Regions from separate parts of the Homo sapiens genome. Here regions 2 and 3 are each reported to be linked to region 1. The links are microRNA targets in miRTarBase. Many come from high-throughput screens and were not tested one by one. Region 1 holds a microRNA gene; each other region holds the end of a gene's coding sequence.

The links. Region 1 holds the annotated microRNA hsa-miR-6132 (AGCAGGGCUGGGGAUUGCA, at 1,888-1,906, shown strand). A microRNA usually pairs through its seed, bases 2 to 8, with sites in the 3' UTR of a target mRNA and lowers its output. Matches are read on the target gene's strand: a 7mer-m8 pairs with bases 2 to 8, a 7mer-A1 pairs with bases 2 to 7 and ends in A, and an 8mer does both.
Region 2: miRTarBase lists TNFAIP1 as a target of hsa-miR-6132. Seed matches in the 3' UTR shown: 7mer-m8 at 2,543-2,549 and 7mer-A1 at 2,009-2,015.
Region 3: miRTarBase lists OTUB1 as a target of hsa-miR-6132. Seed matches in the 3' UTR shown: 7mer-m8 at 274-280 and 7mer-A1 at 1,039-1,045.

Annotation. Positions count from the first base shown.
Region 1 is chr7:117,018,344-117,021,491 of GRCh38, forward strand. MIR6132 (microRNA 6132) reads left to right here and starts at 1,868; the gene lies at 1,868-1,976. All of the region lies in intron 1 of ST7 (suppression of tumorigenicity 7), which reads left to right. RefSeq lists an enhancer at 907-2,106.
Region 2 is chr17:28,344,271-28,347,270 of GRCh38, reverse strand. It overlaps TNFAIP1 (TNF alpha induced protein 1), which reads right to left. Exons shown (of 7, transcript NM_021137.5): 7 at 262-2,907. The coding sequence ends at 2,671. It overlaps POLDIP2 (DNA polymerase delta interacting protein 2), which reads left to right. Exons shown (of 11, transcript NM_015584.5): 11 at 1-638. Among named protein-coding and RNA genes, the nearest start is that of TNFAIP1, 10 kb to the right of the region's middle. RefSeq lists enhancers at 1,573-2,076, 2,580-3,000.
Region 3 is chr11:63,997,295-64,000,294 of GRCh38, forward strand. OTUB1 (OTU deubiquitinase, ubiquitin aldehyde binding 1) reads left to right here. Exons shown (of 7, transcript NM_017670.3): 7 at 55-1,118. The coding sequence ends at 252. MACROD1 (mono-ADP ribosylhydrolase 1) reads right to left here. Exons shown (of 11, transcript NM_014067.4): 5 at 2,933-3,000; 6 at 2,348-2,469; 7 at 2,236-2,266; 8 at 2,037-2,110; 9 at 1,661-1,742; 10 at 1,544-1,578; 11 at 1,264-1,393. The coding sequence ends at 1,574. Among named protein-coding and RNA genes, the nearest start is that of OTUB1, 12 kb to the left of the region's middle. RefSeq lists enhancers at 1-446, 1,383-2,320, 1,894-1,983, 2,321-3,000 and a silencer at 2,114-2,353.

The DNA of each region.
Region 1 (3,148 bases):
CCTACAGTTACATTTCAACATCATTATTGATATTCCCCCTTGGTTGTCGATGTGACTGTTTTTGAAGGTATACATTTTTATTAATTCCTGCAATTTTCTGTGATTTTTTTTCTTTCTCTGATGACCTTTCTCTTTTAACGATTTTTTTTCTTCATGTTTTGAGTTGGTTTCTATTTTCCCTTCATTTCAGTTAAATCCTTAAATATAATTTTGCTGATTATTTATTCATTGTTCAAGAAAGAGGCATTATCGTAGTGTGCTTAAGAGCATTGCTTTGGATCCAGACTCCTGAGTTTGAAGCCCAGTATATCATTCACCACCTGTGTGACCTCGACAAAGTATTTAACCATCTGTCAAATGTGGATAAAAGTGGTATATACCTTGTAGGGTTATTATGAAGATTAAATGGGTTTATACATGTAAAGGACCCAGGATAGTGCCTGGCACATAGTAAACACTCAGTAAATATTAGCTATTGTTATTCTTTCCCGCAACAGATGATTTGTTCTTTATCTTATTTAGCATCATCAAATGTTCTTCTTAATGGCTCAGCATTTTTAGTAAGCTAAAGATCAAGTTACCCTGAATAAACTGTGGTACATTCATACAGTGGAATCTTATGCAGTCTTTAAAAGGATGAGGTAGATCCTACATATACTGACCAGAAAAAGTACTAATGATATTTTTAGATGTTAAAGTAATATGTGGTTCCACTTTCATAGCAGAATTTAATATTTAAAAACTGTATTGAGATCAAGACATGTCTTTGTGAACACAAGAAATTAATTAGAAAAGGCATATACCTTGGATGAATGGGTGGAGAGGAGACTTGAACTATTGAACTTTCTACTATATATGATTTTAAAAGTTACGTATATATGTATATATATTTACTTTTTGTGCATTTCAGTATTTTAAAAACATAACAAAACTCTTTTTTTGGCTTGTGTTGGATAGCTAATGAAAGTTCATATGCTTCTAGTACTTTTTCTTTAAAAACAGATTTATAAGAATATGGTAACACAGGAAGACATTTTTTGTTCCAGTGAGTCAAGAGATAAAATATTTTCAATTATTTCTTTGTGTGGGTAGATCAAAAAGAAATGGGTTGGTCACAAATGCTTACTCATACAGAGGTATACACAGGTGTGTGCACACAGCCTTAAAATGACTGAGTTGCTCTGGAAAATGACAGAAATTCATGTAAGGCACGATGAAGAAATAGGAGAAATACATGTATGTAAATATATTCCTAGAGCAGCGTTTTTCACATTTGAACAATAGTTGCAAAATAGCTAGTAATGGAATTGCCTGCATTTGAGTACTCACTGTGTGCCAAGCAGTGTTCTAAGTACTTAAGATTACTATTTTACTGTTACATTTGTATGTATTTATGTGCCTAGAATATATGTGTAATAGTATACATATTTTCACATACTTGTGATTGAGTGTACAATCCTTGATCTGTCAATCTACCATAAGCTTTGAGAAGATAACAATGAACTCTTCTGTAATTACTTCTAAAGACAGATAATGTTTCTCATTTCTGATATTCTTAATTCCCTTGAAAAGTTCTTTCTATATGCTGCGCAAAACCAAGAAGACTGATATGCATGATGTCTTTGTGGTTAATTGCTATAAAGCCAATATTTAAATTTCTTTGAGTCCTCTTTTACTGCCTGGTATCATGGGATGAAGAGCTGCGCAGGAGGGGAGTGTATACGTGGCTCTCGGTCTTGTGCATTTTGTGACAAAGGAATTCCCCTTTCAATCACGCTGCTCTCCTGGAGCCCCTGGAGCCTCTGGCTCAAGCAGCGCAGTCGGTCTGTGCAGTGTCCCTGACGTCATCCAGCGTATGCATAAGCCCTGCTATTGTCTTACTGCTACAGCAGGGCTGGGGATTGCAGTATCCGCTGTTGCTGCTGCTCCCAGTCCTGCCCCTGCTGCTACCTAGTCCAGCCTCACCGCATCCCAGAAGAGGCACGTCGGCCTTCATTTGCCTAGTGGATTTTCAAAAGCAGCTCTTCGGTTTTTGGTGCTGTTAAGAGACCTTGCATTTCAATCACACCGGGAGAAAACTGAAGCTCGTAACAGGAGAATCTGGCAGCTGGACACAGCTTGGACTGCATTGTCTGGCTTCATGACCCCTGCTGTGTAGCCGGCTCATCTCTTCACTCTCACATGTACACTCTCCTCGCTTTTCTTTCTTTTTTTTTTCCCTTTTCTTTCTTCTAATTTTTAAAAAGCAGCCTCTGGAGCCAGCCATGTTTGGCACTGAATCTTCATGTAAGTAAATGGATCCCACTTCTCTGCTATTTAGAAATCTGCTTGCTGTCATGGTTTCATTGGCTTAGAGTTCATATCACTTTGCCTTAGGTCATTAACAACCTTTGTATTTTGGCTCTAATTACAAAGGAATTGGTCTCAGGGAAGGAACTCCCCTTAACTGGGTTATTCATCCTTAAGGCCAGGGATGTCAATGTGTCAAAACCAGGCCTGTAAGAGGGAGGTAGGAAAACCAGAATCCATACAGCCACCCTAGAATGTGTTAATTGATGGGATCAGGCCTGTCACTGATCTATTGTTGTAGGCTCCGTAATGGTGCTTAAACCTTAAAATAGATACTGGGAGGATCTGAGATGATAGTGTTTATTAGAAAGGAAAGAAAGGCTTACATTTTTTCATCTAAAGAGATAAATAGTTATCATTATATACTCTTCCATATTTTCACAAAAACATAGACATTATAGGTAGATTCAGAATGAGTAAGAAATCGCTTTATTTTTGAGGATGGATTTTTTTTTTTCCCACAGTGGCTTCAATTTTGATATGCTGGCTAGCATCACAGTCCAGCAGGATCATATCTTTTTAAAAACTTATACAATGAAATTGCTTTGGTGCAGAGAAGGCCCTGCACAATGGGCTAGGCAGGACAGCAGTTGTAGACAGCTACAATGGATATTTTAAAAATTACAACCAAACTATGTGAGGATTATTTAATGTTGATATAGAAATATAACGTCAATGCAGTTGTACAGGCTCTGCAGAATATTTTGTCATTGTCTATTAGCAAAAATGACAGTTAAGAATTTCTAAGAGATAAGAATTTCTAAAGAGACTTTCAACCTGCTGGCTAGAGCATTAAATA
Region 2 (3,000 bases), not on the chromosome of region 1:
CCAATTCTTAGGATTTCTTTTCCTCCGCCACTGCAGTGATTGTTAGAGGTAGTTTTCTTGAATTAATATTAAATCACAGTTCCAGCCCTTGTTATTCTTGTCCTTAGTCCTCCAGGGGGAGCTGGGGTTGCAGGGCAACAGTACAGTCGCGCTTACGACCTGGCTAGAACACAAGGTCAGATGATAAACAGAAGCACAGGAACTCAGCCCATGGCCGCAAGCTGGTCAAGGCCTGCTCACTGTAAACATGGCTCTGTACCATTGAGTTTAACACAATTTTATTAGAAATTAGTGTTTGCTTCCATCACTTATGCTGAGCAACCAAATATTACAGTTATGTGATAAAGGAAAAATTCTTTCCTGCCCAGGACCTGCGCCATCCTTTAGGCCGACCTTGGTCACATACCAAATTCAATAAAACCCAATACTGGCCTGTGTTGTTAACAGCAGGCTGCCAGGTTTCTCAGAAACTGACAAGAAAATCTGACCTTCATCCATACTTTGTTTACTTACCCCTGGGCTGCTTGGAGTTGAAAAATGCACACAGCCAAGAGTTGCTTTCTGAATAGGGCTGGAAACTTTCAAAGAAAACCCCCAAACTTTTAAGTCACAAAGTCTGATTAAAGAAGCTAAGATCATGTCAGTGAGTTCAATGTTAGTATTTTCCTTAAGACCAAGGAGAGATTTTCAGTCAGAGAAGATAAATGCCCAGTCCCAGACTACTGTGCTTTCTCGGCAAAAAAGACTGAGACACTGAGGATGTGAATGTCAAAGTAGTAAGCAGGGACTAAAGGGGATGGGGAGGTCAAAAGGCAAGCATCACAACACCTCAGTGGGGAGCTGGGAATTTGAGTGTTAAAGGACCTCAAGAGGGCAGCTGAGAAAATAGGCCAGTGGTCTCAGGCTGACGCATTCCAGTCTCTGTGGGAAAGTCATAAAGCCAAAGCCTGAATTTGGCCAAAGAAGTGGATTTGTCTTTATCTTGTTACCTCAATGAGGGCTGGAAGAACTAGTAGCTGATCACCAAGGTACCTGACCTGAGAGTCTTAGTGCTGTTTATACATTCAAGACTGTGACTAACATAAAATGCCTAATTAGAAAGTCACATTTCCCCTGTCCCGCCGTCATGTCACTTCAGGTCCTTGTGTCTAACCCTGGGTCTGGCATTTGCCCATAGGCTCTGTGGCATCAGCTATCATAAGAGTAGTCAAGAGAGATGAACTTGATAACCTGTGTTCTCTCCAAAGAGCAGAAAGTGGGTACTATACGTGGCTACGTTGCTTTGTTAGGCTGGCAGAACAGTCCCTCCCTGACAGCATTCCTTTGGAAAATAATTCAGATAAGCTGAATTCTGGTTTGGCCAAGCCAAACAAAAAGGAATGAAAACCAAAGCCCTAAAGAGGAACTCACCTCCTGGCTAGTGCTTGGCATCTCCATGGCTGAGTTACCCAACAAGGAGTGAAGGCCTTCAGGGTGCTTCGGTTGCTCCTGTCATCCCGCGCTCAGAGACACCACTGGGCAGAACCGCCATCCCAGCCAGCACCAACCAAGAGCATAGATGGTGTGGGCAGGGAGTAGATGTGTGGCCAAGCATGTGCCACCTCTGTAGGGGCTGCTGGGAGTTTGCTGTCCTCAGCTGATGGGCATGCCAGCCAACACCATGCAGTGCCCACGGGCTCCACGGTCTTCCTGCCGTGGCTCATGTTTCTGGCCCATGTGACAGCTCTTTGGCTTTACCGTATGTGAGGACAGCATGGCTGGAAGCCAAGGGTACTCAAGAGAATCACAAAGAGCAGTCGTGCTAGACCTAGGAGTCAGTGATGTGACTATGATGTGGGGGTAAAATGTCCTTTCTCACAGGCACCCTGTGAGGACTGCCGGTCCCAGCTTAGCCATCCTTCCCTCCTCGGTGCACTCTGAGCTGCTGGCCAGGCTGCAAAGCCAGAGCTGCTCTGTCGGATGTTTTTTTTTTATTGCTTCCTCTTTATCCCCTCCCTCAGATTGATTCTGCAGGGAAGTGGGGATTAGGGTAGAAAGACATGGGTCAAGGAGATTATCAACCTCCTGAATAACAGTACAAAGTGCTTTAAAGAAACAGATCCCACAGGCATGGAGAAGGGCCAAGGGTTCTGTCATATGTAGGGTCTTGGCACCCTGGAGGGCAAAAGAAATGCTCAGTTTCCTCATTACTAGATTTAGAATTATTCATTTCCTAGATTATTTTTTAAAAACCAAACTTATCAAGCCTGTGCTTAAACACCTTAGGAAAAAAGACGTCCCACTTTCTGCACCAGGGCCTCTACAGCACCAGAACTGCCTTTCCCCCAGCTGAGGCCTAAGGGGCAGTAGCCTTCTGCACAGGGCCTAGGGGAAGGTTCTCAGCAGGAGGTGGGTCAGTCCATATGCCCCAGGGAGCAGAAGCAGCTCCGTCGGGCAGGAAGGGTGATGGTGAGCAGATAGGACAGGACGCAGTCTCCAGAAGTGCTCAGGGGCAAGGCAGGGGAATGTGGTCCCTCCTCTGCCCAGACCCTCTGACCTCTGAGCAGGGCCTGTCATGCCTCTGGGTGCTAGAGCAGAGACCCAGGCAGCAGCAGCATGGGGTGGCCAATGGGGCGGGTTCCACAGGATGGGAGATAGGGCCTCCCGTGCCCTGACTCCCTGAGGGTCTGGTCAGTCGCGATGGGTAGACTGGTGGCCGAGCTGCCGGTCATCGTAAGTGCTGTAGCGCTTGACGTGGATGCGGCGGACACGGTCCCGCAGTTCAAAGGTCTCCTCATCTTCACTGGGGGAAGCCTGGCTGCGGCTACGGCTTGTGGCCTCCAACAAGGAGTTGTCGGGGACGCGGGGAGTCTCATAGAGTAGGACGTTGAGTGTCTCCTCATAGATTCGGGCCTCTGGGAATTCCACCTGGGGTTAGGGAGGAAGAAGGTGGAGCAAGGTTTCATCTTCAAGAGGAAGCCATGCGTCAGAGCGGCTGGCCCTGAGGCTCCATAAGGCCTC
Region 3 (3,000 bases), not on the chromosome of region 1:
CAGGGCCTGGGGCGGGGTGCGGAGACCAGGGCCTGACCGGCACCTGTGCCACAGGAGGTGGAGCCCATGTGCAAGGAGAGCGACCACATCCACATCATTGCGCTGGCCCAGGCCCTCAGCGTGTCCATCCAGGTGGAGTACATGGACCGCGGCGAGGGCGGCACCACCAATCCGCACATCTTCCCTGAGGGCTCCGAGCCCAAGGTCTACCTTCTCTACCGGCCTGGACACTACGATATCCTCTACAAATAGGGCTGGCTCCAGCCCGCTGCTGCCCTGCTGCCCCCCTCTGCCAGGCGCTAGACATGTACAGAGGTTTTTCTGTGGTTGTAAATGGTCCTATTTCACCCCCTTCTTCCTGTCACATGACCCCCCCCCATGTTTTATTAAAGGGGGTGCTGGTGGTGAGCCGTGTGTGCGTGTCCCTGCTCTGCTGCCCGCCTGGCTGCTCTGTCTGCTGCCCCCTCCCCCCAGGTGGGTCCCCCTGCTTTTCACCTATCTACTCCTGAGCTTCCCCAACAGGAGCAGGTTTGAGGGGCCAGGCCTCTTGGAGGCCCCTCCTGCTTCGTTGGGTTCTGCTTCCTTCCCTTCTTAGCTGGCTCAGGGGCTTCTATGGGATCCTGGAAGTTCCTTAGGGACTTGCCCAGGGTCCCAGGGCCACCCACACTTCATCTGCTCCCTCATAGGCCCCACCTCCACGTCCCGGCTGGGCCCCAGACCCCAGCTTCCTGCCCTCCACCGGGAGTCTGCATGGTTGGGAGTCCTGGGTGGAGGGGCCTTTGTGAGGCTGGACCCGGCTCAGGGCAGGTGGAGGAGCTGGGCCTCCCACAGGGTGCCCGGGCAGTGCCATCCTGGTGGGGGAGGGCAGCCTTCAAACGTGTGGGGTCTACAGTCCTCAGGTCTAGGCAGGGCTGCCGGTTCTCCACCTCCCCATCCGCCCCAGGCCCCCTGCCTGTGCCTGCCTTGCACCCCCTCTGCTTGGGCCACGGTGTCTCTGCATTGCCTGCCTTTTTGCCTTCACCTCTTTTCTTCCCCGCCCCCTGCACATTCGGGGTCTCAGCCCCCAGGCTGTGAGCTCCTTGGGGGCAGGCCCTCAATAAATGTGAACTGCTGCTGCCGCCTCTGCCGTCCGCCTGTGCCTCTGCCCGCCTGGCTCACCGAGAGCTCTTGCCAGCCCCTTTCAGTGAAAGCATCTGGCCAGGGGCTCCATCCAACACCTGGGCCGCCTTCCTTCCCCCCAGTCAGAGCTCAGACAGTAGGAGCTGCCACAACGAGATCTTTATTAGGCTCCTCGGGGGCGGGGCGCGGAGGGAAAGAAGGGGTGGCCAGGCCCAGGCCAGGCTGCAGGCTTTGGCGACCTCTCAGAGCTGGGAGCGGGGTCCCGAAGGCGGGTCTGAGGGCAGAGCAGAGTCAGAGGTGTCTATGGGCGTCCCCGACCTCCCAGGCTGCCCCGTGGTTTCCCGCCCTGCTTGGGGGTGAGCGGGGGTTAGTGGGCGGGTTAGTCTAGGGCCGGGGCCGCCGCACGGGGCGAGGCCCTGCTTACCAGTCCCGGTCAGGGTGGGCTGCGGGAGCCTCAGGCTGGAAGGCAGAGGACAGTGAGAGCCCGCCCCCAGGGTGGACCGGGGCAGGGGCGGGCCGTGGGGCGGCGCGGGGCACGTACCCACGGGGAAGTAGTGGGGGAGCCGGCTCCGGTAGATGTCCTCGTCCTTCTCGAGGAACACGCAGATGATCAGCCGGTCCACCTGCGCCAGGGGCTGCTCAGCCTGGGCCGAGCTGCCACGCCTGGCCCCAGGATCCTGTGACTGCCTGCCCTGGTGCAGGCTTTCACCTGCCTGGCCCTGCGCCCTTCACGGAGGCTCACGGCTGTGTGCCATCACCCCCATCTCGCCACCGCCAGGCGCCCTTGCGCAGGAGAAACAGGGAAGGAAGGGGCGGGCCTGGCCCTGCGCTCTGCACCCTGACTCCCTGGGCGATGATGGGGGCTGGTCACTCTGGCCGGGATGCGGACCCCACCCTCGCCCGGGCCCAGGACTCACCTTGTCCTTGTGCTGCTCCAGCCACTCTCGCAGCGTGGCCAGCACGATCTCGGCGGCCGCCTCACAGGGGTAGCCTGAGGCGGGTGGGGCGGGAGTGAGTCCTAGGCTCTGGCCCCGCCCACTCCCCTGTCCGCCCCGGCCCCTCCCGGCGTCTGGGTCCACCGCCCACTCCTGGTCCTTGCCTTTCTTCCAGACTCACCAAACACGCCGGTGGAGATGCAGGGGAACGCCTGGGCGGGGAGGGGTGAGAGGGGGTTGGAACATTGTCACTGCGCCCCGCCTCCCGCCCTCCCCCGCGGGCCGTCCCTCACCACCGAGCGGAGCCGGTGCTCCAGCAGCAGGTCCAGACTGCTCAGGTAGCAGCTGCGGAGCTCGGCAGCCTGACTGGCGCTGGGCTCCCCGTAGGCGATGGGCCCCACTGTGTGGATGACGTCTACGGGGGGCGACGGGGTCAGACCGGCGGGGGTCTACGCGGTCCTCAGCTCCCTCGCTTCCCCCTGCCGGCCTGGGCAGAAGGGGGCAGGAAACACCTTTCCCCCCAAGCGCTGAGCCTCCTCCGCGAAGGCCCCCACCCCTGTGGGCCCCCTCGAGCCCGAATCCGCACGCGCACAGAGCCCCGCGCCCCCTCCCCACATCTGTATGGGCCCGGCTGAGACCCGAGCGCGAGTGTGGGCGCGAAGGCGTTGCCCCCCAGCTCCATCCTCAGCCTCCACGCACGGTCTCCCCCATGTGCTTCCTGGGGTGTGCGGGGTGGGGGCCGGGTCTTGGCCCTTAAGGTTAAGAAGGGCCCCCTGAGGAGTTCCCCAGCACTCCTGTGGGGGCCGCACCCCTGATGTCCCAGTGACACACGGGCGCCCTGTCTGCGCCCCACAGCTGGGGGCGCGTCGGGGACTCACACTTGGCCGGGAGCCGATAGCCGCCGGTGATCTTGGCCTTGCCAGTCTTACAGCTCTGCAGGGTCCGG